4 linked regions of the Homo sapiens genome follow. The protein of the gene in region 2 interacts with the protein of the main gene of each other region in a pairwise test. Each region holds a gene or a part of one and is shown on either strand. Other genes may lie near its edges. The genes, in order: GRAP2, PTPN23, PDCD6 and PSMA3.

Region 1 (7,024 bases), on a different chromosome or scaffold from region 2:
CTCCACTCAAGCACTTAGTTCTTTCCATTATCTTCCCATCTTCTTTTCTGGGAGAAAGAAGCCCAAGGGCCCTGTGACTTCAACTCCACCCACTTTCTGATGACTCTGAAACCCCAAGCCCCAACCTTAGCCTCTCTCCTGGGTCCAGACTGACATATCCAGCTGCTCCCTGAGCTTTTCTTCTTAGTTGAAGAATTCAACTCACAGTCACCCGCATGCAATCTGAAGCCCATGAGCCCTTTCTCAGCCCTGCCTCCTCTCATGTATCTTCTATTTCTGTAAAGCCGTCACCACCTACTCAGTCTCCCAAGCCAGAAATCCAGTGGCATCCCAGAGTCCTCCTCTCCCTTAGCTTCCAAGATTGGTCAAGAAATCCTGCCTGTTTGCTTCCTGAATTTCTCTAAAATATATCCTCACCTCCTCTTAGCCTAGGCCCTATCATCTCTTGACTGGAGGCCTGCGCTCATCTTCCTGCAGTTTTTCTGCCGACTTTAGCCTTGCAATCTATCTTCACATTCTGATCTCTGATACAGAGCTCTGTCGCTCTCTCGCTCTCTCTTAATTAGAGACAGAGTCTCTCTCTGTTGTCCAGGCTGTAGTACAGTGGTACAATCAGAGCTCACTACAGCCTTTAACTCCTGGGCTCACACCCTCCTCCCGCTTCAGCCTCCTGAGTAGCTGGGACTACAGGTGCGCTTCCACCACGCCTTGCTAAGTTTTATTTTTATTTTCATAGAGACAAGGTCTCGCTTTGTTGCCCAGGCTGGTCTCAAACTCCTGGGCTCAAGCGATCGTCCACTTGGGCCTCCCAAAGTGCTGGGATTACAGGCATGAGCCATCGCACCCAGCCAGAGCTCTTTCTGAACTCTAATTCTTACTGTTACTTCCCTGCTCAAAATCCTTTAAGGGCTCCCCCTACATTTCAAGATATTCACAGTCTACATTCCAGCCACCTGGAGGCATTTCATTCCCAGAACACACCACACCTCCTCAGAGCTGAAGGAGGAAGTCCATTGCCATCTGACTTGGCCTCAGTAACTCCTTTCGTTGCCAAGGCAAGTGGTCTCTCCTCTACATATGGATGCCTTTTCTATCTATTTCTGCTTTCTTCTTTATCATCACACTTCTATCAGTTAAGATATTTTCAGGAGCAAGAAACATAAACTAAAAATGGCTTAAACAATAACAAAGACTTGTAATTTCTCAAAGTCCAGAAGTAGGAAGGCTCCTGGGTATCATCTAATTCAGCGGTTCAGTGACATTATCAGAGTTCTTTCCATCTTTTGCTCTGCTATCCTTATTTAGAATTATTGTTCTAGTCTATATCAAAGACTTAAAAAAAATTTTTTTTTTGAGAGAGGCTTGCTCTGTTGCCCAGGCTGGAGTCCAGTGGCAAGATCACGGTTCACTGCAACCTTGCCTCCTGGGTTCAAGCAATTCTCCTGCCTCAGCCTCCCGAGTAGCTGGGATTACAGGCATGTGCCACCAGGCCCGGCTCCTTTTTGTATTTTTAGTAGAGATGGCATTTCACCATGATGGACAGGCTGGTCTCGAACTCCTGGCCTCAAGTGATCTATGTGCCTTGGCCTCTCAAAGTGCTGGGATTACAGGCGCGAGCCACCACACCTGGCCTCAGACTTTCAAAACATTCTCAGTGGCGGTGTCAAATATTTTGTCTTTTAATGGTGAATCTCATTTTTTGAGAAACCAGAAGCCACATACAGTCAAGTCTGGTGAGTAATATGAGTAACTGAGGTAGACAATAACATTTGGGGTCACAGTCAAAGTCAGGCCACAGAGTAACAAGACAGAACTTTTGGTTTTGTTTGGGATCTGGCTTTAAAAGCAAGTTTAGAAAAGGCATCCCAAGTATCTTGGGTTCCAGCCAAATATCTGTGAAATACACAGCATGTGAACACAAAGAGTTACTGTTTCCAAAGCTGGCCCCACTGGGATGTTTAAGTTTTAATCTGCCTGTTTAAAAAACAATAACAAATTGAATTTTTGAAAAGTTTCCTGGGCCTGGTGGCTCACGCCTGTAATCCCAGCACTTTGGGAGGCCAAGGCAGGTGGATCACTAGGTCAAAGGATCAAGACAGTCCCGGCCAATATGGTAAAACCCCGTCTCTCCTAAAAATATGAAAAATTAGCCAGGTGTAGTGGCGCATGCCTGTAATCCCAGCTACTCAGGAGGCTGAGGCAGGGGGATCGCTTGAACCCAGGAGGTGGAGGTTGCAGTGAGCTGAGATCCCGCCACTGCACTCCAGCCTGGCGACAGAGCAAGACTCTGTCTCAAAAAAACGAAAAACAACAACAAAAAAAAGAGAAAAGTTTCCTGGTTACCTGGAAGAGAAAAAAAAAAATACACCGTGGAGTAACCATTCTTCCTTCTCACCATCTGCTGAGATGAGGAACTTAAGGTGCTAACTGGGACAAATGAATTTCCAAAATAGAAAAAGGGATTCAGGGAAGTCCTTGAGTGCTGAATTTGGGAGGCCAAGCCACAGTGGGGTGACATGAGTGGACGGCACAAGTGGACAGAAATAACCTGGGGTCAGGAGAAGCTGACTCCAAAGGTAAACCCACGGCTCCTCCACAGGCCTGGGGTAAATCCTAGAACAGCTGTTGAGTTCTTTCAACTTATTAACATATTTTCCTCTAAGTCCAAAAGGGCCTTCTTTGCCTGGCAGCCCCTTTCTCTTGTTTTTTTGGTGTCCTCCCTCCAATGTCTTTGTCTTTCCTTTTCTTCCATGTAGATTTTAAGTAACCAAGAGGAGTGGTTTAAGGCGGAGCTTGGGAGCCAGGAAGGATATGTGCCCAAGAATTTCATAGACATCCAGTTTCCCAAGTAAGTATCTGCAGCCTGCTGAGATGGGCCTAGCCACACACACTCCTCTTACATTTCCAGCAGTCACTACAGTTATCCATGGGAACCCAAGACATTGTCAAAAATGGCTGCCTCTGGAGCTCTCTCCGGAGAGCCTCCAGAGCATGCAGCTGAAGGCCAGGGCAGGAGGGAGACTTTGCATTTCATTTCATTCCCTTTTGATGTTTACACCATGTGCATGTATTGCTATTTTAAGTTGTTCTTAACTTTTTTTTTTTTTTTTTGGGAGTTGGGGTCTCCCTCTGTCACCCAGGCTGGAGTGCGGTGACTCCATCACCACTCACTGCAGCCTAAAACTCCTGGGCTCAAGCCATCCTCTCACCTCAGCCTCCCAAGTAGCTGGGATTACAGGCACATGCCACCACGCCAGGCTAGTTTTTGTATTTTTAGTAGAGACAGGGTTTTACCATGTTGGCCAGGCTGGTCCCAAACTCCTGACCTCAAGTGATCTGCCGCCTCAGCCTCCCAAAGTGCTGGGATTACAGGCGTGAACCACCATGCCTGGCCTATTTTAAGTTTTGGGTTTTTTTGGGTTTTTTTATTCATGTGTTTATTTGTTTTGAGACAGAACCTTGCTCTGTTGCCCAGGCTGGAGTGCAGTGGCATGATCTCGGCTCATTGCAATTCTCCTGCCTCAGCCTCCCTAGTAGCTGGGATTACAGGTGCATGCCACCACACCCAGCTAACTTTTGTATTTTTAGTAGAGATGGGGTTTCACCATGATGGACAGGCTGGTCTCAAACTCTTGACCTCAGGTGATCCACCCGCCTCGGCCTCCCAAAGTGCTGGGATTACAGGTGTGAGCCACTGCACCCGGCCTATTTTAAGTTTTTATAAAATGAGTTTGTAAACTCAAATTATCTATAGTGATTTCAATCACGGCGTTCCCCAGAATTCCAAAGGGGACGCTATTGGCCACCCCACTTCGGGAGCTGCTCTCCTAAGCGCTTCTCTGTGACCTCCTAATCCTAACCATCCTCACCAGGCTCTCACCCTTCACTCAGTGGGTGGACAGACACTCCCTGCCTTCAGTAAAGCATGCTCACCCCAATGAGAGAAGTCAGCGGGGGGAAGGGGAAATTCTCTTCCTAAAGAGGAAATGAAAAATTGAGATTGGGCTTCGTTTGTCTCAAGAATTGACCACAAGGGTTAGATAGAAATCTAATCTTGCCTCAGAACCAGGGTCTAGCTCAAAGAGCAAAAGCTTGTTAGAAAACCACAGTAGTATTGGTGACTCCAGCAAGGTGCAAGAGCACCAGTCTTGGTAAACCTGAACTGACCACCAAACCAAGAGAATGACCACTGACCTTGACGGAACCCTTGATGCTGCCCAGGAATCTGCTAGGTGACCTCTGCATACCCCACGTGCTCCTCAAACCTTCAGCCCCTCCGTGCATCACTCTTAGCCCGTGACCTTGATTCCAGGTTCTCTGGAACAATGAAAGCCACCAGAAGTGAAGCTCCCAGACCCCCCTCCCCCACCGCATCCACCTGCCTCCTGCAAGTGTGCTCAAACAGTCGGCCTTTCCTGCAGCTGGCTGGAAGGAACTGTCACTGCTTCTAGCAGAAATTCTCCTCTCTCTCTCTTCCACGTCAACCTCCTTTCCCTCTCTGCTGGATCATTCCTGTCAGCAAACACACACGCTGCAATTTCTCCCAACTTACCAAAACACAAACAAACAAAACCAAACCCAGAGGCCAGGTGGGTTTTGTTGTGGCTGATGCCTGTAATCCCAGTCCTTTGAGAGGCTGAGGGAGGAGGATCACTTGTGGCTAGGAGTTTGAGACCAGCCTGGGCAACATAGCGAGCCCCATCTCTACAAAAAATTTTTAAAAATTAGCTGGTCGTGGTGGCATGCGCCTATAGTCCCAGCTGCTTGGGAGGCTGAGGCAGGAGGATCGCTTGAGCCTGGGAGTTCAAGGCTGTGGTGGACCATGATTATATCACTGCACTCCAGCCTGGGCAGCAGAGAGAGACTCTGTTTCAAAGAAAAAAAAAATTTAAATAAATAAATAAATCAAGAAAATTCTTAATCCCAAATCCCCTTCCACTTGCCACTCCATCTCTTCAAAAGGAGTGTGTGCATTTGCTACTTCCAACTCCTCATCTCCCGACCCTTCCCACCAGGCTCCCCATGGGCTGTAGCTCCCAGGGGTCATCTCAGCATGACCTGCCCTGGGGATCCCCCCTCCCACTGGAACACCTCTTTCATTTTGGCTCCAGGACGTCCTTCCTCCGGTTGTCCTCCCACTGCCCTGGCTTCTCCTCCTCAGTCTCTTGTGTTGGTTCCTCCCACTCCCCAGTCCCCTATAGGTTTAGAATGTCTCCTTTTCAGTGAGGTCTTTCTCATCACCATACCTTACATTAATCTCCCACCCACAGCGCCCCATCTCTCCTCTCAGTTTTCATGTTCTCCACAGCACTTACCATCATCTGGCACGCTTCAGATCTTAATTATTTTGTTCTTTTGTGTGTGTCCCCCTCGACTAGAATGTAAGCTCCCTGAGGGCAGGGGTGTGTGTCTGTTCTGCCCACTACTGTGTCCCCAGTGCCCAGGAGGGGCCCAGCACAGTACTAGATGTTCAGTAAAGCTGTTGAATGAATGAATGAATGAATGAACGAACGAATATGTATTATTGAAACCATGACCACTCATGTCTAATATGCAATGTGTGGTGATTTTTACAAATCTTTAAAGAAGCCCCCTATCAGATTGCAGTCAGAGGACAAATGTGTATTTCCTAAATCCCCTTCACTTCTGAAATGTTTCCTTTGCGATATGGCTGCTGTGGTGCATACTCCATTCCTCTTCCCATCCCCATTACATTTCCCACACGTGGCAGTGGTGTGTGTGGTGGCCTCTTGTTTAGCCCTGTAGAATTGTGTGGCAAATACTCAGGCAGAATCTCCAGGCCACCAGAAACTGCTGCTTTCAGCCCTCTCAGAGCACAGCCAAACTTCCCCCTCAGTCCCAGTGGGGGACTCAGTCTCCAGTAAGTACATCCTTCCTGCTACCTATGTCTCAGTTTCCCAAATTCTAGAAAGCACAGAGAATTGCTCACAAAGGAATCCAAAGCCAAGGCCTGACGGGCTTTTATCTTAAAGGAACATGCGTATGAGCCTTCTGGTGACAGCAATTAGAGCAGCCACCTTGAAGCAATGTGACACAGTCCCACCTTTGGCCGCTGAGTGATTGCAGACACTCATTTTGCTTGTCTGTGGTGGAGAGAGGTCTCTGGCCTCCTGCTTTGAGGCTGCAGCCACAGCTTGCCTGGCCCTGTGTAAGTGTTTGACCTATTTCATACATGCCACGCTGTATGCAGCTGTACCTCCAGGGGCTGCCACCCTGACCATTCTGCTAAAAGAGTAATTTCTCCTGTTTCTTCTTTTCCACAGTAAAGATTATTTCCCAGCCTGGATTTTTGGGGCAGGCCCAGGATCTGGTTGTATAGACGCCGCTCTCTGGCGGCTGCCAGCCTCGCTGATTTCCAAGCATGTACACTGGACTCCCTAGGAACACTGCAGCCTCTGCTAGGCACACTGAGCAAAGCCCCCTTGTGCTCCATGCCAGCCTAGGTAACGTGACGCCCTGGGCTGTAACTTTCCTTTAATACCCAGGGAGGAACCTCTAGGCCACTGAGACCTCAGGGCAGGCATGAGCACCCCAGGCCCTGCTCAGCCGGCTGCACCTGGTTGGCTCCAGTGCCTGAAGCCTTCCCTTCCCTCCCCAGTGCATCCTCTGTCCTCGCAGCTCTGGTCTATCTCTTCCGCAGCTGCCGGCAGGCGGCTGCTTCCTGCAGTGAGTCACTCCCACACTGCCCCATTTTGGTGCAGCGACACATTTCCATGATTCGTTTCCCAGGCTGGAGAGAGACTTCTCCTGGAGAGAAGGAACAAAGAGGGTGAATCAAGGGGAATGCTCCCTCGCCTTTCCTGAAAGCTGCCTGGAGCACTGGTTTGATTTCAAACAGCACCTGGTCTCTCTCTGCTCCCTACTGTACAGAGTCCCCAGCCTCTTTCCCTCTGGGTCACCTCTTCTCCACGTCTCCCTCTTGTCACTCCTGTGTCTCATCCTGATCCTTTTGTTTGATCTCGCCCCCACAGATGGTTTCACGAAGGCCTCTCTCGACACCAGG
Region 2 (7,666 bases):
AACTCCTGACCTCAGGTGATCTGTTTGCCTCTGCCTCTGCCTCCCAAAGTGCAGCCCAGACTCATGTATATTCACTTGTTGAGACTTTGGGTGGTCCCCTCCCCAGTCCAGGCCTGGGTTTCTACATTGGTAAAATGGGGAAGGGTGTGTGTGTTTTTAAGGGCCCATCCAACTCTGCTGGGTGTGATGGGGAGGCTGTCTTGAGAAAAGGGTGTGCTGCCCCCTCGTGATGAGGCAGACTCTTCCCCAGGACCATCAAGTCTTAGGCTTCTAACTCCCAACCCTGCCTGGAAATACATGTTAGGAGGGCACTCCCTGCCCCGGAGTCACCCTTTCTGCTGTCTCACCTCCACCAACCCATCCCCGCCCTCAGCATTCAAGGCCTGTGAAGGTCCTCTTGGTCTTTGATGCCTTTCACACCAATTGCCCTTCATGTCACTGTGACCCTGTGTTATGGGCTAAATGTGCCCCCTCCATTACTCCTCATTTCATGTTTGAAGTCCTAACCTCCAGTACCTCAGAATGTGACTGAGTTTAAAGGCAGGGTCACCAGGCCCAGGGATAAGATGGCCATTAACAAGCCAAAGAGAGAGGCCTCAGAAGAAACCAACTCTACTAATACCTTATCTCAGACCTCTAGCCTCCAGAACTGTGAGGAAATACATTTCTGCTTAACCTACTCAGTATGTGGTACTTTCCTATGGCCACTCTAGCAAATGAATACACCCTGGAACTCACAGAATACTTTATTTCTTTTGTTGTAGTTCAACTCCAGAAGCACCATGTGGGGACAAGGTGTTCCCATTCCACCTCGGGAGTAGAGGCCAGGGGAAGGAAAGGCAGTAGGGCCAAAGCTATCACTGTAGGAAGCTCATGAGATAGGGACCCATCTGCCCAGCTCTCCTGAATCCTGGAGCCTCGCCAGAGCTCCCTCTTGCATCTGCAATTCCACCTGCCTGGAATGCCCATCTCTATAGGTCTTCTCTGTCTTGCAAGGCCCAATTTAGGGCTTCCTACTTCTCCCCTTCCTCTCTCACTTCCTGTTCCAGCCCATACTGAACTGCAACAGCTTAATCCTGACCCCTTGCTGGCCTCAAGTTTGGGTCCTGGGCTGTCTGTGTCCTGTGGCCAAGCAGCCGCCTGCTTCTTTGCTCAGTAATGCTATGATGTAGTCTCCCAATTCCCAGCCTGCTCTGGACTCAGCTGTTGTGCCTAGGTCTTGCAGCTCCCTCATGGCTGACCACTGCCTCACCATCAGAAAGCCCCAAGGTAGGCTGCTTTATGCTTTTGTATTTTACTTACTACAAATTGTGTTCGGGCAGTTTTGCAGGTTGTAGGCCTTCCCATACTTTCTTTCTTGTGTTTGTTTTGAGACAGAGTCTTGCTCTGTCACCCAGGCTGGAGTGCAGTCGTGCAATCTTGGCTCACTGCAACCTCCACCTCCCAGGTTCAAGCGATTGTCTTGCCTCAGCCTCCCTAGTAGCTGGGACTACAGCCACACGCCACCACACCCAGCTAATTTTTGTATTTTTAGTAGAGGTGGAGTTTCACTATATTAGCCAGGTTGGTCTTGAACTCCTGACCTCAAGTGATCCGCCCGCCTTGGCCTCCAAAAGTGCTGGGATTACAGGCGTGAGCCACCATGCCCAGCTTTGCCCAAAATTTCTCTATCTCTGTCCAGGTGACCTCAAGATGGTCTTCCAGGCTGGGCGCAGTGGCTCTTGTCTGTAATCCCAGCACTTTGGGAGGCTGAGACAGGCAGATTGCTTGAGCCTAGGAGTTCAAGACCAGCCTGGGCAACATGGCAAAAACCCATCTCTACAAAAAATACAAGAAAAAATTAGCCAGGCCTGGTGGCACACGCCTGTACTCCAGCCACTAGGGAGGCTGAGGTTGGAGAATTGAGTGAGCTCAGGAGGCCAAGGCTGCAGTGAGCCGACATCACACCATTGCACTCTGGCCTGGGCAAACAGAGCAAGACTCTGTCTCAAAGAAAAAAAAGTCTTCCAGAAACAAGCTCTTCTAAGATGCTGGAAGAACTGGCAAAATTTTTCTTTCTCTTTAAATAAATTATTTGCAAGGTCTTATATTTTATTTTTTTTAAACTGTGGTAAAATATACCTAACAAAGTTTACAATTTTTCTTTTTTTTTTTTGAGACAGAGTTTCGCTCTTTGTTGCCCAGGCTGGAGTGCAATGGCACAAATCTTGGCTCACCGCGACCTCCGCTTCCCGGGTTCAGCGATTCTCCTGCCTCAGCCTCCCGAGTAGCTGGGATTACAGGCATGCACCATCAGGCCCGGCTAATTTTGCATTTTTAGTAGAGATGGGGTTTCTCCCTGTTGGTCAGGCTGGTCTTGAACTCCCAAATCAGGCGATCCACTCGCCTTGGCCTCCCAAAGTGCTGGAATTACAGGTGTGAGCTACCGTGCCCAGCCACAAAGTTTACAATTTCAAGCATACAGTTCAGTGGCATTAAATTGTTCAGATTGTTATACAGCCATTAAACAGTAACTCTCCATTCTCCCCTCCCCTAGCCCAACAGACACCATTCTACTTTCTGTCTCCATAACTCTGACTAACTAGGTATCTCAGATAAGCAGAATACAGTATTTGTCCTTTTGCAACTGGCTTATTTCACTTAGCATAATGTCTTCAGGGTTCATTCATGTTGCAGCATGTAACAGAATTTCATTCCTTTTTAAGGCTGAATAATATTCCATTGTATGTACACACATCATCTTTATTCATGCATCCATCCATCACTGCATGGATTGCTTCTCTTTTGGCTACTGTGAAATGGTACTGCTATGAACATTCATGTAATTTCATTTTCTTCTGCTCTAACTCCAACTGGAATGAAGCTAGGCCCTTGACTAAGTCTTGAAAGGGTTTGAGGTCTCACAACAAAGGGACCTGGGCTCTACCTTGTGGGTGAAGCCTGTCTTAGAATCCCAGATCCCACCCACATCCCACGGTCTCCATAATTTTTCTTTTTCTTTTCTTTTTTTTTTTTTTAACACATGGTTTCACTTTTGTCGCCCAGGCTGGAGTACAATGGCACAATCACGGCTCACTGCAACCTCTGCCTCCCGGGCTCAAGGTTCCTCCCGCCTCAGCCTCCTGAGTAGCTGGGACTACAGGCGTACATGAGCCACCATGTCCTGCTAATTTTTATATTTTTTGTAGGGACGGGGTTTGGCCATGTGGGCTAGGCTGGTCTTGAACTCCCGGGCTTAAGCGATCCGCCCGCCTCGGCCTCCCAAAGTGATGGGATTACAAGCGTGAACCACCGCACCCGGCATCGTGGTCTCCACATTTCATCCAGAACGAGTCAAAGGCCTTGACCTCGAGCTTAACACGGACCTGAACCTTTGCTCTTCCCTTGTTTTCCCTTATCAGTAAACAGCCCCACAGCCACCCACCTGCACAAGCCAGAAGCTTGGAAATCATATTCGACGTCCTCATGCCCTTACATCCATCCATTCCAAGTTCTGATACTTTTGTCTCCAAAATATTCCTCAAATATTTCTCAAAGTGGGCAAAATATTTCTTTGCTCACTTTTTACTTCCCTCTGCTCCAAGCCACAATCACCTGTCTCCTGGAAGACTACAAAAGGCTCACTGATCTCCCAGCTCGCACTTTTGCACTCACTATCTCCAGGCCATTCTCTGTTATTTCTATTGTTACTATTATTATTTTGAGACGGAGTCTCGCTCTGTCGCTCAGGCTGGAGAGCAGTGGCAAGATCTAGGCTCACCGCAATCTCCGCCTCCCAGGTCAAGCGATTGAACCTCCAGCCTCAGCCTCCCGAGTAGCCTATTATTTATTTCTAAAAGTAGGTGATACAGCCATATGATTTAACAATTCCTGCTCTATAGGTCCCCTCTCCAGAGGCAACAGGTGCTCTCCATTCCGTGGTCTCCTTCCAGATACTGTGGGCGTCCCTGGGTGCTCACCTGGCCGTATACCTTCCCCCACCCACTTCCCCACAGGGCCCGGGGCCTCCTCACTCCGCTTGAGACCCTCCATCCAGGCGCTCCCTCCCTATCGTCCGTCTCCCTTGGGCACTGCCCGGCCTCCCAGGCTGGGCTGAGTAGGCCAGTCTCCGGTCAGTGATTCTGTTCCAAAGCTCGAAAGCCTTCGCAGCACTGGGACTGAAACCCCCAGCTCTCAGCCCCGACTCCTTCAGGCCAGGTGCTCCCTCCGCACCCTCTCTAAGGCCCGTTTTCGCGTCATCTCTTTCCAGCGGCCCGCCCGCCACGTCATCTCTACCACAGCACCAGTCCTCCACGGCTCTTGACAATACGTGGGAGGGCAAGTTCATAGGTGAGGTCTCATGCTCTTCCTAGGAGGGAGGAGCGCGGCGGGCGGGACCCGCAGCTGGGCTTGGCCCGGGAGCGGGGAATAAGCTCGCTCCGCGCCTCTCAGTTTAGTGGATGAAGACTACTATCCCAGAAGCCGTTTCGCCTCGGGCTGGCGAGCTCCTCCCCGCCCTACTCCCTCCGCGCGAAGAAGACTGAGCATGCGCAACAGGGACAGCGCCTGCGCAAAAGACTACGCGAGCGGGTGGCTGGGTTCACTGCAACTCCCGGCAGGCCGCTGGCATTTTTCATTCCCTCCCGTGACCAGTGACTTCCGGCACGAAGGGGCGGGGCTGGGCTCGTGGCTGAGCCAGCAGCTGCAGCAGCTACGGGAGTGGCCGGGTGGCCGGCGGGTGCCAGCCGCCATGGAGGCCGTGCCCCGCATGCCCATGATCTGGCTGGACCTGAAGGAGGCCGGTGACTTTCACTTCCAGCCAGCTGTGAAGAAGGTGAGCTTGCCTTCCATCTTCCCCCCTATCCGCCGCGTATCTCCGTCGTCTGCAAGCGCGTGACGCCCCCCTGCGCGCCCATCACCTCCTCAGGCCCGGTCGCAGGGTCCGGTGAGGCCAGGAGGGGCCTTCGCCGGTTTTCCTCAGCCTGTCCCACACCCCGGCGCCCGCAGGCCATTCTTCTCCTCCCCGATAGCCCCGTGCTAGCACCTGCATCTTCATCTGAACCCGGTTCCCGACTTCTGCCCCGAGTCATCCGCTGTTCCCACTGAGGCAGCACACTTCCTCCTTCTGACGCTCGGACCCAGTTCTGCCCCGCCCCTCCTCCATGCCAGGACCGCCCCGCGCGGGAGCGGTGGGCGGCCCTGACCGTGCGGATTCTTTTGCTGCGCCCGGCCCTCGGTGCGCTGTCAAGTCCACGCCCGCCTGGGACAGACACTGGGGATGGCTCAGGGGCGTGTGTTTAAGACGTGAGCCCCGGTGGCCCAGGGAGATGCCCGACCCCTGCGGTGAGGGTTTGTTTTACAATTGCTGCGATTCTGTATGGTCTCCCATTCGGGAGTCTCTTTGGACCAAACAATACAATCCCACGACATTTTTAGGAGGGTTACTGCTTTTCGTAACCGACTGGAGGGCATAAACAGTGTTGTAGAGCTCAGAGAAATCTTACTGTGTTGGAAGAACAGACGGGCAGGTTTGGCGTTGACTAAGGCAAGGAACTTCTGTGGAGAGGTTCAGGTGTGGTGATTGAACACAGGTGCCCTCCGAGACATCCGCTGTATTGGTAGCACTGAGGGCTAGAGCAGAAATGAAAAGGAACAACCAGGAGGCCGTCGCAGGTGGGGGGCCTTGTGGGCTTAGCACAGCAGATGCCAGAGTAAGCCCCAATCTAGATGGTGCACCACTTAGCGAGACGCTTGGGAAGACAAATAGGAAAAAGAAAATGGGTTTGGAAGTAGTTTCCCAAGAAGCTGTCTCCCCTCTAATCGCCATACACCATTGCCTTAGTTCAGACAGTGTTTGAGTCCATCATCTAGCCTCTTGGGGCCAGGAAATGAGGGTAATTGATCCAAAATTCTAGAATTTTGTTAACGGTTATCCAGACGTTGCTCTCTTCTTCATCTGCTGTTTCTTTTTCCTACCTTTTTTTTTTTTTTTGAGACGGAGTTTCGCTCTTGTTGCCCAGGCTGGAGTGCAATGGCACGATCTCGGCTCACCGCAACGTCAGCCTCCCGGGTTTAAGCGATTCTCCTGCCTCAGCCTTCCAAGTAGCTGGAATTACAGGCATGCGCCACCATGCCCGGCTAATTTTGTATTTTTATTAGAGATGGGGTTTTGCCATGTTGGTCAGACTGGTCTCGAACTCCTGACATCAGGTGATCCGCTTGCCTCGGCCTCCCAAAGTGCTGGGATTACAGGCCTTCATCTGCTGTTTCATACAAATACAATTGGATGAATTTTTCTAAGACACAACAGAACTCCTGTTTTCTTTTTCTTTTCTTTTTTTTTTTTTTTTTTTTTTTTTTGAGACGGAGTCTCACTCTGTCACCCAGGCTGGAGTGCAGTGGCGCAATCTCAGCTCACTGCAAGCTCCGCCTCCCGGGTTCACGCCATTCTCCTGCCTCAGCCTCCCAAGTAGCTGGGACTACAGGCACCCGCCACCACCCCTGCCTAATTTTTTGTATTTTTAGTGGAGAGGGGGTTTCATCGTGTTAGCCAGGATAGTCTCGATCTCCCGACCCGTGATCCACCCACCTTGGCCTCCCAAAGTGCTGGGATTATAGGCATGAGCCACCGCGCCTGGCCAAAACTCCTGTTTTCTGTTTTACAGAATAGATCCGGTATCTTTTTTTTGGAGACGGAGTCTTGGAATAGAGCCAGTATCTTTAGTTTTCCATTAGAGTTCTTCCAGACTTATCCCACTTCTTTCAGCATTTATTGAGTCCCCACTGTGTGCTTCATCTACTGTGTGCATCTGATAGAGGTACCCTAGATTCTGTTCTCAGTCACTTGCTGTTTCCTTACCATACTCTGTTTCCTCTTCTGTGCCGTTGGTCATGGAATTCCTCCTGCCTAGAAGAGGTCTCATTTTGCCCTGTGGGGTGGTGAGGTGCCCTTCTTCAATCTCCGTGAATTCCATTTTCTTGTCTCCCATCCAACTTTCAAGGTCTACTTAAGCTCTCCTTTCTGCAGAGCCTTTCTTAATCTTTCTACCTGGATTAATCTTTCTCTTCTCTTAATTCCTTAACTCTTTTCATCCTTTCCCTGGTGACAGTTATGTATGCTGTGTTTTAACCCCCCTGTTCAAGTGTGTGTTACCTGAGAAGCATCTCTGTGTTCCCCAGAGCCTAACAGTGTACCCTCTACATAGTTGGCAGTCAGAAAAATATTTCTCAAATGATTGAATTACAGCTGAGCGGAAATTTAGAGATGGTGACCATAAATATATGGGAATGCAGTAGATAAAATCTTGGCCCAGAAACTCCTAGGAAGTATTTTTGTTTGAACTTAGCCTTTGCTGCTCTGACGATTCACACCGACCCAAAGGGTATTGTGTGACCAGTGACTTCCCTCCATGCACCTGGGCCTCCAGGAGAGGAGTTGCTCATTAGCCCTTTAGCCCGAGGTGGTATCAGATATGAAACAATTACTCCTATAGACACTGGAGGAGACTGTGCAGACACCACTGCAGCCTGGGGACTCTTCCCAACCTGCACCCCCTTCCCCAACTGCAGAGCCCCTTCTCTGCCTTCTGCCACTGGCACCCTTGTCCTGCTTTATGCTTGCTCTGAGCTGTGGGAACCTCTGCCAGTGAATTGGAGCTGAGGGTTAGAATTTAATTTAGAATAGAAG
Region 3 (7,024 bases), on a different chromosome or scaffold from region 2:
TGATGGTGATGATGGTTTCCACTTACTCAACACTCACACGCTGGGCTAGGCACTTAACCCAAATCCAAGGTCAGCATTATTGTTTGGGGGTGGGGGAGACACCTCCTGCTCTGACTTGTGTGTTTGGGTTCCTGTATTTTCACCAGAGGGAGTTAGTCCTGCCCCAGTTCAGCTGGTCCTCAAAGTGTATATAGCTCTTTAACCATCAGCAAGTGTCTATCAGAACATAATCTTGATTTCAGCTGCTACTAAATATCTACCAGGAGACTGCTTGAGAGAATTGCCTGATGGGTGCTGAGTCCACCATTCCTGAGATACTTTGAAATCAGTGGCTTAACCCAAGCTGTGTATCGGGACCCTCTCACCGTGGTCCCAATGGAGTCACTTTTCTTAGGCGCCCCCCTTTACCTTGGGCTCTGAGCTTCCTCTGCCTTTCATCTCTGTGGGATGAAGCCCCACCGCCCTTCAGGATGCAAAGCCCTCTTCTCTAATGTGAGTGCAGGGCCAGGTGCAGTGGCTCACGCCTGACCTCCCAACACTTTGGGAGGCCGAGGCAGGGGGATCCCTTGAGCCCAGGAGTTTGAGACCAGCCTGGGCGACACTGTGAGACCCTGTTGCCTGAATTGCCCTGGGAGATTTCCTCAGCTTGTGCTGGGGGCATGTGGCCCCATGAAGCCCGTAGTCACTGTTCACCCTGAGAGACGCTGGCTTTCGGGCTCACACACCTGCTGCGGGGCAGCCCCAGGAAATGGCCACCCCATTTCTCCTGGAGCTGCGCGTGTTCTCAGAAACTGTGGTGGCCGTTCTGTTTTGTTTGCATCTTATAAACGTTTACCTGATGACATTTTCCTCTTCAATTTAGCTGCTAGAAAATTTAAAGTCAGGTTGGTGGCTCACCAGTAATGAGAGTTTAGAGTAGAAGTAAACTTTATGACATAGTCTTAGACTCTTCACTTTCTTCTCAACCAATATGATTCACATTTACTTTATTTTGCTGTACCGTGAGTGTCTCTGTGTTTCCTGAATTCCTTCTGGAATAAGGCAGGTTGTTAGTAAGCACAGGTTTCTGGTCCATCTCACAGCCTCAGGCAGTGGGCATTGCTGTCGGTGCTCCCTTTCCGGGTTACCTGTGGTAGCTCTCAAGTTGCAGGGCTGCGATTTGAAGCCTGATTTAGTACACCGTGTTTCTGTTGTGTTCTGTGGTGGTTTGCTCCTCACATGTGAGCATTCACCGTGGCCCTGTGTTTTTCCACCACACCTCTGCCTGGTGGCATCCTACTGGATGTCTCAGCCGAGCCACTCTGTTCTGAAGATGCCCTTGTCCTCCACCCCTTTGCTTTGGGCTCTAAGCTTCTTCTGCCTTTCATCTCTGTAGGATGAAGCCCCACCCGCCCTTCAGGATGCCAGCCTTGGCAACATTGTGAGACCCTGTTTCTACAAAAAGTAAATGAGTGTAGTGGTGCACGCCTGTATTCCCAGCTACTTGGGAGGCTGAGATGGGAAGATCACTTGAGCCTGGGAGGTTGAGGCTGCATTGAGCTGAGATCAAGCCACGGCACTCCAGCCTGGGAGACAGAGCGAAACCCCATCTCAAAAAAACAAAGAAAGTGGATGCGCGCTGCTCCTGCCATTGGATCATCGCAGCATTTTTCTTTTCTCTGATATGCACCTTTTTCCTCATCGTGGGGGCTCACGTTTTCATAGTTCCCTCTCACTACTAGGTTGTGAGCTGCGTGAAGGAAGGTTCATAGTTGTGTTGTATGTACAGGCACACAAAATTTGTCCTTGGATAAACACATATCCTCTTCCTTCTTCTCTCTGAATTTCTTTATTTTAAGAAAAAAATTAGAGATGGAGTCTCACTGTCTTGCTCAGGCTGGTCTCAAACTCCTAGGCTCAAGTGATCCTCCTGCCTCAGCCTATACTAATATGAATTCCTATACTAATATGATTGAAATTAGTTTGATTTCTATAATAATTGTGCTCCCAGATTGGGCTTCTGTTTTGATAGTAGAACTAAATTATTAGGCTATTTCAAGAAATTAATATATTACTGGTAGAAAAACTGAAGCTACAAAATGGCCTGGTTTCTCACTTCAGTTAAATTTGTGCTTCTGAGTGCTTGTATTCTAGGTGAAACCACACTGAGAAGGTATTTGTGGCCCATACACTGATTCCTTCATGAGACTTGTTTGCACAGGAGAGCTGCTAAAAATTACTGCTCTCAGGGAGGTCTGTGGTGAACAGGTATGAAGAAGAAGACTGTTCTCTGCCCTTCTTTTTGCAATAAAATGTTCCAAACTATCTTGAGTTTGATCCCTTTTCGGGTGTTTGGGGTTTTTTTAACATTCACATATTTCTTGGAATTATAAGAAATTAACTTTGTGCTTCTGAAGTAGGTTTGCCTTAATATAACACTGATGTATTTGTAAGGGGCATTTTTAAAGCTGTACTTTAAAAAATAATAATTCTTACATTCGTTTGAAGGTTTTTTTATGTGTGTTTTTGAGACAGAGGCTTGCTCTATCGCCCAGGCTGGAGTGCAGTGGCACGCTCTTGGCTCACTACAACCTCCGCATCTGGGGTTCAAGCGATTCTCCTGCCTCAGCCTCCTGAGTAGCTGGGACTACAGGTGCCCACCACCACGCCCAGCTAATTTTTTGTATTTTTTTTTTTTTTTTTTTTTTGAGGCAGAGTCTCTGTCGCCTAGGCTGGAGTGCGGTGGCACTATCTTGGCTCACTGCAAGCTCCGCCTCCTGGGTTCATGCCATTCTCCTGCCTCAGCCTCCCGAGTAGCTGGGACTACAGGCACCCGCCACCATGCCTGGCTAATTTTTTGTCTTTTTAGTAGAGACGGGGTTTCACCGTGTCAGCCAGGATGGTCTCGATCTTATGACCTCATGATCCACCCGCCTCAGCCTCCCAAAGTGCTGGGATTACAGGCGTGAGCCACCACGCCCAGCAATTTTTTGTATTTTTAGTACAGACAGGGTTTCACCATGTTAGCTAGGATGGTCTTGATCTCCTGACCTCTTGATCTGCCCACCTCAGCCTCCCAAAGTGCTGGGATTACGGGCGTGAGCCAGGGGGCCAACATGGTGAAACCCTATCTCTACTAAAAATACAAAATTAGCCGGGAATGGTGGTGCGCGCCTATAATCCCAGCTACTCGGGAGGCTGAGGCGTGAGAATCACTTGAACCTGGGAGGCAGAGGTTGCAGTGAGCTGAGATAGCGCCACTGCACTCCAGCCTGGGGGGCAGTGAGACTCCATCTCAAAAAAAAAAAAAAAAAAGAATAGAATAACCCTTGTTTAGGTGTTAACAAAATCCAGGCCAGACAAATCTAAACTTTAATCTCATACCCAGTTCCTAGATGAGTCCCTTCTCCAGCTCAGGTTCCGCCTAAGCCTCAGGGTTCCTTACTTGGTGGGCACCACCTGCTCCCTTCCCCACCTTTGTCCTCTTTTTCCTCTGCTGGCTCCTCCGGGGTTGGGTGTGTTCAGAGGCAGAGACAGGCTAAAGGTCTTTGGCTTTTAGGTTCTGTTGGTGGGTGAGTTCCAGATATAGCTTTCTCTTGTAGGATATTTCATTTATTTATCTATTAAAAATATTTATTTAGAACACACCATTCATGTGCCAGACCCTGTCCAGGCACTGGGGATAGGGTGATAAATGAGATCAACAAAAATACCTGCCCACATTAAGCTCCTGTTCTAGGGAAGACAGAAAGAAAATACACGTGTCCTTAGTATATTAGAAGATTCCAAGTACTGTAGAGAAAAATAAAGCAGGCTGGACTCGGTGGCTCATGCTTGTAATCCCAGCACTTTGGGAGGCTGAGGTGGGAGGATTACTTGAGCTCAGGAATTTGAGACCAGCCTGGGCAACATGGCAGATCCTGTCTCTCCCAAAAAAAAAAAAAAAATTTAGCTGGGTATGGTGGCGTGCATCTGTAGTCCCAGCCACTGGGGAGGCTGAGGAGGGAGAATTGCTTCAGCCTAGGAGGTGAAGGTTGCAGTAAACCGAGATCGTGCCATTGCACTCCAGCCTGGGTGACAGAGCCAGACCCTGTCTCAAATAAAACAAAAGGAAAGAAAGAAAATGAAAAAAAGAAAGAGATGGGGCAAGCAGGGGAGAGGGCTGGGGACACAGGGGAGGGTGCTGGGGATGCAGGGGAGGGTGCTGGGGACACAGGAGGGTGCTGGGGATGCGGGGGAGGGTGCTGGGGACACGGGAGGGGCTGGGGACATGGGAGGGGCTAGGGATGCAAGCTTTCCTGAGTTCCCACAGTTCTCTGCCCCTCTCCTGTCTCACGGGGTGTGGGCCACCTGTGGCTTGCGGTTGTTTCGCGCCAAGCTAATATCTTGTTCTTCCCAACAGAGAGGCCCGTTGAGGCTTCTCTGTCCTCCATGGGGAACAGCATTGGCCTAAACCTGCAGACACCATTGCAAAGGGAAGTCAGCTCAGGCAAACCCGCTGGTGAAGAAGAATTCCAGTGTGGGGACACAGAGACTGACATTTCTTGCCATGGGTGATTTAATTTTGGGCCTCAGTTTTTCATTCCCCCCTAAGAGTATGACGCAGCCGCATCCTTGCCAGGGCCGGAGGGAGGGTGGATGGACTTATAGGTGTTGCTTGTGGCTGGGTGACTTGCTTCTGCCAACGAGATTTTCACAGACACGGCACAAGCAGAAGCCTGGAATGTGTGGCACTGCCAGGCCTGCCCTCTTAGGCTCTTGATTTTCCCCACGAGATATGCGTGCCCCAGGGAACGGCGGCTCTGGCTGTGGAATGAGAGGCGTGTGGAGCAGGCATGGTTCCCACCCTCAGCCTAGAGTCAAGGCCAGACTAGATCAGCCTAAGCCCAGCCACGCCACGGGTGCAGCAGTGAAGAGCAAATGCCAACTGTCCATGACAGTGACTTTCAAAGGGGCGTGTCATGTGCCTCATCCCAGCAACAGGGAAGGCATTTCTCTATCAGTCAGTTGGTAAATGATTATTGACAATGTGTGGGAAGGTGGAGTTATTTGAGTAGATTTGGCCTCTATTCTCATGGAGCTTCCTTTCTAGAGGGGAAGGCAGATGATGGATGAATAAATATAAATGATTCTAATAGGTTGGTGCAGCAGTCATTAAAAGTAATGGCAAAAAAAAAAAAAAAAAAAAAAACGAGGAGCCGGTGCTGCAGTTCATTAATAGTAATGGCAAAAACTGCGATGACTTGTGCGCCAACCTAACCCAGTAATCACGGGTGTGCAAAATGTGGCGATGGGCAAGTTCCGAGTGCTAGGAGAGCATCTAGCTTCCCGGAGTCAGGAGACGGGGGTTGGCAACCTAACCAAGGTTAAGTCCAAGGGAGGGGGGTGGGCAGGGAGCGATATTTCAGTGGAGACTCCAAGGACGAATGGTATTTAGAGAGTAAACCCCGATAGAGAGGGTTTGTGTCTGGCACAGAGAAGAGCCTGTGCAAAAGCCAGCGGGGCGAGAGGACACCATGTGTTCATCCACCTGAGGGGCGACCAGCAGGCTGGAGCTCAGCGGGTTGAGAGGAGGATGCAGAGCCCGGGAAAGGCACCCTAGGCAGAGGGCACAGCAGGGCAAAGGCCTGGAGTCAGGCCTGAGCCTGTGTGGTTTGAGGAACGGATAGAGGCCTGTCCGGCAGGAAGGGAACAGCACAGGGGAGAGACCTTAGGCCAGAGCAGAGGGCAGGGCTGTGCTGGGCACTGTGGGCTGTGGATGGTGCTGGCATTTAAGAGGGGAGACCATAGACCAGGGCAGAGGGCAGGGCTGTGCCGGGCACTGTGGGCTGTGGATGGTGCTGGAATTTAAGAGGGGAGACCATAGACCGAAGTAGAGGGCAGGGCTGTGCTGGGCACTGTGGGCTGTGGATGGGAGCTGGCATTTAAGAGGGGAGACCATAAGCCAGGGCAGAGGGGTGGGGAGGGCTGGGCCAGGCACCAGAGTGGAGACCACAGGCCAGGGCAGAGGGCAGGGCTGTGAGGGCACTGTAGGCTGTGGATGGGAGCTGGCATTTAAGAGGGGAGTCCATAGACCAGGGCAGAGGGCAGGGCTGTGAGGGCACTGTAGGCTGTGGATGGGAGCTGGCATTTAAGAGGGGAGTCCATAGACCAGGGCAGAGGGCAGGGCCGTGCTGGGCACTTTGGGCTGTGGATGGGAGCTGGCATTTAAGAGGGGAGACCATAGACCAGGGTAGAGGGCAGGGCCGTGCTGGGCACTTTGGGCTGTGGATGGGAGCTGGCATTTATGCTCAAGTGATGGGAATATGTTAAAAGATTTTAAGGAGGGGAGTAACAGTTGGGATTAATGTGTATTCTGGGAATCTCAACAAAGTAAATTCATAGTTCGAATTTTCATAAGACTTCTGCACAGGCAGAGAGAAATAAGATCGCATCTACAGCTGTGTGGTGATTTTCTTTAAAAATACTACTAAGTTTTTAAACGTGATTTCAAATGGTGTGTTTCTGTTTCACATTGGACATAAGTAGATTGCAAGGCTAATGGAAAGTAGAAAAGTTAACTCATGAACATAAAAGAGACATCGATTTGAAAACAAAACATTTATTCATTTACTTCTGCTGCAGTTTTCTTGACTGCTGAATTTCGTAAGAAGGGATTGGTCAGGGAGGGTCTTGGGGCTGAAGACCTGGAGAGGAGCTGGTGCTATCGCTGTTCAAATCTGAAGGTGGTGGAGATGGAGCCTTGGGGAGGAGCCGGTGCTGCCTTTTAAGTCTATGAGAGTCGTTGAGCTGGAGGTCCAGGGAAGAGCTGGTGCTGCCACTGATGTCTTAGGTTGTGGAGCTGAAGACAGTGAAGGAGCTGGTTTGGCTGTTCTGTGAGGGTCGTGGAGCTGGAGATCCAGGTGGGAGAGGTGTTCTAGTTTGAGGGTCATGCAGATGGAGATCTGTGAGGAGCTGATGTTATTTTAATTGGTGGGTCGTAGAGCTGGAGACCAGGGAGGAACTGGTGTGGTTCTAGTTTGAGGGTTGTGGAGCTGGAGACACA
Region 4 (7,024 bases), on a different chromosome or scaffold from region 2:
AATATGAGAGGATCTTGATTTTCTACAACTAAGTAAAAGATAACATGCTGCTCCATTTTCTTAAATGATGAAGGGATGGCTTTCCTAACATGGAACACTTAACAGATGACTACCATTATACCTAAATATAAAAGATGGTAAGAACTGATTTCCAGAAGGACTTCAAAGGATTGGTTCGGTGAAGGAAACAGAGTATATCATGATAACATACTATACAATTCAAGGAAGATATCTGACTTCCTTTCTTAGCAGCTCTGCTGCATGTTGGTTCCTAGTGTTGCCATTATTAACTGACAATCATAGAATGGCTTCTGCTTGCTTCACAACTGAAACTAGGAGGGCGGAGGGGAGGAGGTGGCAAGAGGGGTAAAGGCAGTAGCAGTAATGATGGACCGGTTAATAAGAGACTCTGAGTGTGATGTAAATAGTATGTTTATTAAACAATAGAGCCCATTGGAATTTTTTTCTTCCACGTATTGTTAGATGTAAAACCTGATACACTACCATACAGACAGGTGATTGACTAGACCTTGTTTATGTAGTTCTAATGTGGAATACTTAGAGTTGTTATGAATTACGATTATCCATAACTTTTGAATCTAAAAAGCTGGCTACACAACGTATTTTGTTGGAATCTTTTTGTAATACCAAATGTCTACACTCTTTGATCTAGAGAATCACAAAATTTTAGAAACATCACTACCCAGGTTAATTGACTTTTTTATTGTTTACTGTCCAAATACCTGTTACATATTAATAGTATTCTACTTTATATACCTGTAATAAACTATTCAGGGTTTCTTAAGCTGGTTGTTGAAATGTTTTGTAATACTGCTCTTCTTACCTTGTTATAGGAACTTTTATAATAAACCTGAAAAAGTGAAACATATCTTTCCCAAATAAATAGCAGATTATATAAATGAGCCAGCTTCATGGATCATGTATTGAAATAATTAGTTGTAACCTATAAAGTTTGTAAGCATTCTTACAATAGAGGCAATCTTAAGATTACTATTATTAGGACTTAAGAGATTTGAGAAGTTGGGAGCTAACAAATTAAGACCCTAATGGTATATGTCCTTAACCTGTAACAGGAGTTTATTTTGTCAAGCTATTTTTCCCATCCTATTCATTACTACTAAAAAATATTGCTTAAAAACATTTTCTTCCTTCGTGAGGCTTCTTAGAATGTTAAATTTACCTTCTAAAAATTATACACTAAGTTATTTTACAGGAAAACAGCTTCTTAGGATTAATGTAATATATATATGCAAAGGTCAAATGAAATATTTTTGTGGATGGTAAGAAAAATTTCAACTTACATTTTTGCAACTTCTTTAACGATATCACGGCAGGTCATTTCTTTCATCTATAGAAAATAAAATGTATACTGTTCATCAGAAGAACATTTTCCACTTGTGTAATAACTATTTTCACTTTTATACTCAGATATAAAACCAAGGAAAATAACCTAAAGTCTGAAAAAGACCAGAATCGAAGTTTCCTGATTCATATTTTAATGTTTTGAAATTTATACTCCAGGCTGGGTGCAGTGGCTTGTGCCTGTAATCCCAGCACTTTGGGAGGCCGAGGCGGCCGGATTGCCTGAAGTCAGAAGTTCGAGACCAGCCTGACCAACATGGTGAAACCCTGTCTCTACTTAAAAATACAAAAGAGCTGGGCATGGAGGTGGTGCGCGCCTGTAACCCTAGCTACTCGGGAGGCTGAGGCCTAAGAATCTCTTGAACCCAGGAGGCAGAGGTTGTAGTGAGCCGGGATCACGCCACTGCACTCTAGCCTGGGCGACAGAGAGAGAGACTGTCTAAAAAAGGAAAAGAAAAAAATTTATACGCCAAAAAAGATATTCTGAGATAACCTGTAGTTACCACTAACTTTGTGACAAAATTATAAAAATCCACAGCCATCTATGAATCTGTAGGCAGACCTGAAGTTTGAACGACTGGTGAAGACATCTGATTTTCTTTATAGCCAAGTTAGGATAACAAAATGCAAACAAGTCATTAATATTTACTATATGCAAGATACAGAAAGATGAAGGAAGGAGTAAGAAGTTATCCTTCGTGGAACTATTCAAAGCAAAAATGCAAAATACCAGGGAAAGCTTTGAAGAACCAAGATTTGAGCAGGTTCTTAGAATATAGATTGGATTGGATTTGATTTCAAGAAAGATGAACGTGTAAAGCAGAAGTGGGAAGCCAAAAACTTTTTTCCAAATTAGAATTAAGCATTCTTTCAATGAACATTTGGAAATCAAGGTAGAAAAATATCCCTAGGGCCTAGCTGAGGAGTCTGTATGTTGTTGGGTTTTGATAGTAACCAGTCCAAGATTTTGTTATTAGACGTGGGTTTCTGAATAGACAGGCATTTCTGAACAGACATGACAGGATCAAAACAATGTTTGAGCAAACTGCCCTTCATCTACTGTGGATATGTTGGGGGATGATGGAATATAGTGAAAGATAATGGGTGCTCATACAGCAGTCTAGACTTAAGGTGATTCAACTACTATATATTAAACTAGATTATCTTTTATTTTTTAATTTTGAAATCTGGATGCTCAAGCTCTGCCTGCACAACCACATGAGGAAGAAGGAACAATGACAACAAAAATAACACTAAATTTAAATTTAAGAGTACTACTTTTAGGAAATAGACAAACCATTATTTGGGTACAACTAAAGGCAACTGGCATGGACTCAAATATTTTGGGGAAGAAAAAGACTAAAAGTTCTAAGGAAGAAAATGCGAACCTTGATAGTTTGAAATAGTTAAAAAGACAGTGTAGAAACTGCTTAGGCAGTTTGATTATGGACTATTAGATGATACTTGGGTCTGATAATGGTATAAGGAGAATAAAGTATTTAGGGATCCAATATTACGCCTGCAGCTTTTTCCAAATAGTTCATGGGGGAGGGGGATGTGTAAGTGGTTAACTGAAGTCTAACTAGATAGGTTTGTTGTAAGCTTAGGATGTTTACAGTTCTTCATGTTAAGTTGAGCGTGATGGGAAGGGAAAGAATGCTGATCTTTAAATTTTTGTCCTTAGTTAAGTTCTGTATTTAGTGAATTAATTGCATCCTAAAAAGTCAAACTTGAAAAGCACATTTTAAATGGCAAATCTATTTTTTACATGTTTGTGAAGTTTTTATTTTTTAGTAAACAGACCATCAGAAGAGAACAATGGTACAGAGCAGGGGTCAGCAGATGGATTTTGTAAAGCATCAACTTGTAAATATTTTCAAGTTTATTAGCTGTATGGCTCTGGTTTCTGTTCCCTGTTCCAAATGTTAAAGTCTACTGTTGTATTCTAAAAGCAGCCATGGACTGAATGTAGCTGTGTTCCAATAAAACTTACACAAAAGCAGGCAGTGGGCCATAATTTGCAACACCTGATTCACAGCATAATTTTGTCACAAACTGAAAGTGTTCCTCAATTAAAGTGATTTTTTTTTCTTGATTTTTCTCTGGGATTTATTGTTTTTCCCATTCCTTGCTAGGATTTAACTACAGAAAGACAGATAGTAACTGCTCTAAATATTCTAATTTCCTTTATTTTTTTGAGATAAGGTGTCGCTCTGTTGCCCTGGCTGGAGTGCAGTGGCGTGATCATAGCTCACTGTAGCCCCCAACTCCTGGCTGGGGCTCAAACAGTCCTCCTGCCTCAGCCTCCCAAGTAGCTGGGACTACAGGCACGCACCACCTCACCTCGCTAACATTTTGTTTTGGGAGATAGGGTCTTACTCTTTTGCCCAGCCTGGTCTTGGAACTACTGGGCTCAAGCAGTCCTCCCAACTTGGCCTACCAAACTGGTAGGATTACAGGGGTAATCCCCCTCAACTGACATAAATATTCTAATTTTCAAATTTCCATATAATAGTATGGAGAGATGAAAACAAAAGGAAAAGAGTAGAAGATAGGAACCTAGCATCATACTAGTAAGTGTGCAATGGAAAAGAACATAGGTCTAAGACTCATAAGGTCTGGATACTGTTCAGAACCAGCTGATTCTGTGGTCCTATGCAGTGTGTTTAATCTGCAGTTGAGCTTGGGCTAAATGACCTCTAAGATCCTTTTGTCAGCTTTACTAAAATACGAAACAAATTAGGTTTTATAGGGGGTTCTAGAACTTAGCATTGTATAAATGCCAAGCACTAATAAGTATTTTCTAGAAGCTGGTCTTAAATAAGTTGAATGAGTAATTAGTTGAGCAGGGTTCTAGTACAGCATTAACATTAAATGTATGTGAAATTGTATCTCACTTCAGTTTACCAAAACACTGATAAATGGTATGCCTGCTTTTTAGGCAAGTTTCTGACAGGTAATCAATAATATTGAAACAGTATCCATGAAGTCTTTAAGTTGATCAACGCATGGCTAAAAGGAAAACCAAGTTTTTAAGAAAACTTTTTCACACTAATAGCTGAATTTTGTGAAAGAAAAAGTGGGTAGTCGTAAGAGTGTAGGCTTTATGCCTTACCTGGCTAGGAGCAAAGCTAAGAGAACCGGTGGAGCACAGCCAGACATAAAAGCTGTGTTCCAAAGAAAGAATATAGGAAAAATATAACTTTTTATTAACTCAAAATTTTAAACAAAATTTTCAAACTAGAGCTCACAGAGATTCATAAATAGGTTTCAAGGATTTTGTGAAATCATATCAAAAGTTGTGTTTTTCTAGATTGAGGCTTTATAGCAGTTATTCAGAATCTATAAAGGGATGTATAACACAACTCTACAGATAATATGTTACCAGCTTTCCCATTCAGTGACTTAGCAGCTTCATAAACTCTCAACATCAAACCACACTATATCCTTACACCGAGCTTCCCCAGCCACAGGCCACATGGGGCCAAACACAAATTCGTAAACTTTCTTAACACATGATGAGATTTTTTTTTAAGCTCATCAGCTATCATTAGTGTTGGTGTATTTTATGTGTGGCCCAGGGAAGCCAAATGATTGGACATCCCTGCCTTAGACTGAAATGTCTGTGGTGATAAAATTTCACTGCATTAGGATGACGACATAGTAAAAATTCAAGCATTAATTATTACCTGAAGCTTCTCTATTTCCGTCTTTGCAGCTTGCCTGGCTTTGCCGATGGCACAGCCCCAATAACCCTATTTAGAAAAAAATATATATAATCACTGAATTAGTACACTATCATATGTAATTAATGACTACTAATGTTTCTATAACCTAGTGAAAGGATGCTAAATGACTTTTAAAAGCAAGTATAGAAAAATATAGTCAAACACATTCTGATGAATGCCAAAGGGCTCAAAAATACTAAAATACCAAACAATTCCAAAACAACCTGTATTTTTAATAAAGGTATATCCAAAAATATGTAAATTATGTAATCATATACACTTTAAGACATTTTGGGGAACAGGAACGGAAAAGATTTTAGCACTATGACAATGAAAAATGAAATTATATATTCCTGAGAGACAGAAATAAAGTTAATTCCTATGAGTTCAGTACTCTAAACCCCCAATTTTATTATTTTGTAAATTTTTTTAAAGATAAGGATGCACAGCTGGGTGTGGTGGGTCATGCCTGTAATCCCAGCACTATGGAAGGCCAAGGTGGGCAGATCACCTCAGGTCAGGAGTTGGAGACCGGCCTGGCCAACATTGTAAAACCCTGTCTCTACTAAAAATACAAAAAAATTAGCTAGGTGTGGTGGCAGGTGCCTGTAATGCCAGCTACTCCAGAGGCTGAGGCAGGAGAATCGCTTGAATCTGGGAGGCAGAGGTTGCAGTGAGCTGAGACCGCGCCACTGCACTCCAGCCTGGGCAACAGAGTGAGACTCCATCAAAAAAAAAAAAAAAAAGGATGTACACATATATACTTCTGTTACAGCAAAATATATTTAAGAATCTTCATTTTCTTCAATTAGTAAAAACGACAAAAATGTAAGGATAAGAAAACAGTTAAGAAACGGTAACAGGCCGGGTGCAGTGGCTCACACAAAGTGCTTGTAATCCCAGCACTTTGGGAATCTGAGGCACGTGGATCACTTGAGGCCAGGAGTTCCAGACCAGCCTGGGCAACATGGTGAAAGTCTGTCTCTACTAAAAATACAAAAATTAGCCAGGTGTGATGGTACAGGCCTGTAATCCCAGCTACTTGAGAGGCTGAGGCACAAGAATCCCTTGAATCCGGGAGGCAGAGGTTACAGTGAGCCAAGATTGCACCACTGCAGTCCAGCCTGGGCAACTGAGCAAGACTCTGTCTCAAAAAAAAAAAAAAATGGTAATAATTTAGGGAAAGCTCTTAGAAATCACATTTAAACCTTCTCTTTAAAAGGGAAGGCAGGGCAAGGTGGCTCACACCTATAATCCCAGCATTTTGGGAGACCAAGGTGGGCGGATTACTTGAGATCAGGAGTTCGAGACCAGCCTGGCTAACATGGTGAAACCTCGTCTCTACTGAAAATACAAAAATTAGCCGGGTGTGGTGATGCATGCTTCTAATCCCAGCCTACTCGGGAGGCTGAGGCAGAATTGCTTGAACTGGGGAGGTGGAGGTTTGGCGCCACTGCACTCCAGTCTGGGTGACAGAGCGAGACGCTGTCTGAAACAAAATTAGGTCCGGCACTGTGGCTCACGCCTGTAATCCTTGCACTTTGGCAGGCCGGGGTGGGCAGACCACCTGAGGTCAGGAGTTGGAGACCAGCTGGCCAACATGGCAAAACCCCATCTGTACTAAAAATACAAAAATTAACCAGGCATGGTAGTACATGCCTGTAATCCCAGCTAATCAGGAGGCTGAGACAGGAGAATTGCTTGAACCTAGGAGGCGGAAGAGGTTGCAGTGAACCAAGATCGAGCCACTGCACTCCAGCCTGGGAGACAGAGTGACACTCCATCTTATAAATAAATAAAATAAAAGGGATGACATGGCTGGACATCGATGCTCACGCCTGTAGTCCCAGCATTTTGGGAGTCCAAGGCAGGAGGACTGCTTAAGGCCAGGAGTTTGAGACCAGCCCTGGGAA

What was found.
Region 1: the proteins of PTPN23 (region 2) and GRAP2 interact in binary tests that used the Homo sapiens proteins (3 or more experiments, as listed by UniProt).
Region 3: the proteins of PTPN23 (region 2) and PDCD6 interact in binary tests that used the Homo sapiens proteins (3 or more experiments, as listed by UniProt).
Region 4: the proteins of PTPN23 (region 2) and PSMA3 interact in binary tests that used the Homo sapiens proteins (3 or more experiments, as listed by UniProt).

What each region holds. Positions count from the first base shown.
Region 1 is NC_000022.11:39,953,063-39,960,086, forward strand, and holds part of GRAP2 (GRB2-related adapter protein 2), read left to right. Parts: intron 1-2,756; coding exon 2,757-2,848; intron 2,849-6,992; coding exon 6,993-7,024. UniProt on the Homo sapiens protein: Interacts with SLP-76 to regulate NF-AT activation. Binds to tyrosine-phosphorylated shc.
Region 2 is NC_000003.12:47,376,368-47,384,033, forward strand, and holds the start of PTPN23 (tyrosine-protein phosphatase non-receptor type 23), read left to right. Parts: upstream 1-4,653; 5' UTR 4,654-4,729; coding exon 4,730-4,813; exon of another isoform or gene 4,814-5,125; intron 5,126-7,666. UniProt on the Homo sapiens protein: Plays a role in sorting of endocytic ubiquitinated cargos into multivesicular bodies (MVBs) via its interaction with the ESCRT-I complex (endosomal sorting complex required for transport I), and possibly also other ESCRT complexes.
Region 3 is NC_000005.10:274,637-281,660, forward strand, and holds part of PDCD6 (programmed cell death protein 6), read left to right. Parts: intron 1-1,375; exon of another isoform or gene 1,376-2,304; intron 2,305-7,024. UniProt on the Homo sapiens protein: Calcium sensor that plays a key role in processes such as endoplasmic reticulum (ER)-Golgi vesicular transport, endosomal biogenesis or membrane repair.
Region 4 is NC_000014.9:58,261,819-58,268,842, reverse strand, and holds part of PSMA3 (proteasome subunit alpha type-3), read right to left. Parts: intron 5,139-7,024; coding exon 5,073-5,138; intron 3,479-5,072; exon of another isoform or gene 1,450-3,478; intron 1,370-1,449; coding exon 1,323-1,369; intron 1-1,322. UniProt on the Homo sapiens protein: Component of the 20S core proteasome complex involved in the proteolytic degradation of most intracellular proteins. This complex plays numerous essential roles within the cell by associating with different regulatory particles.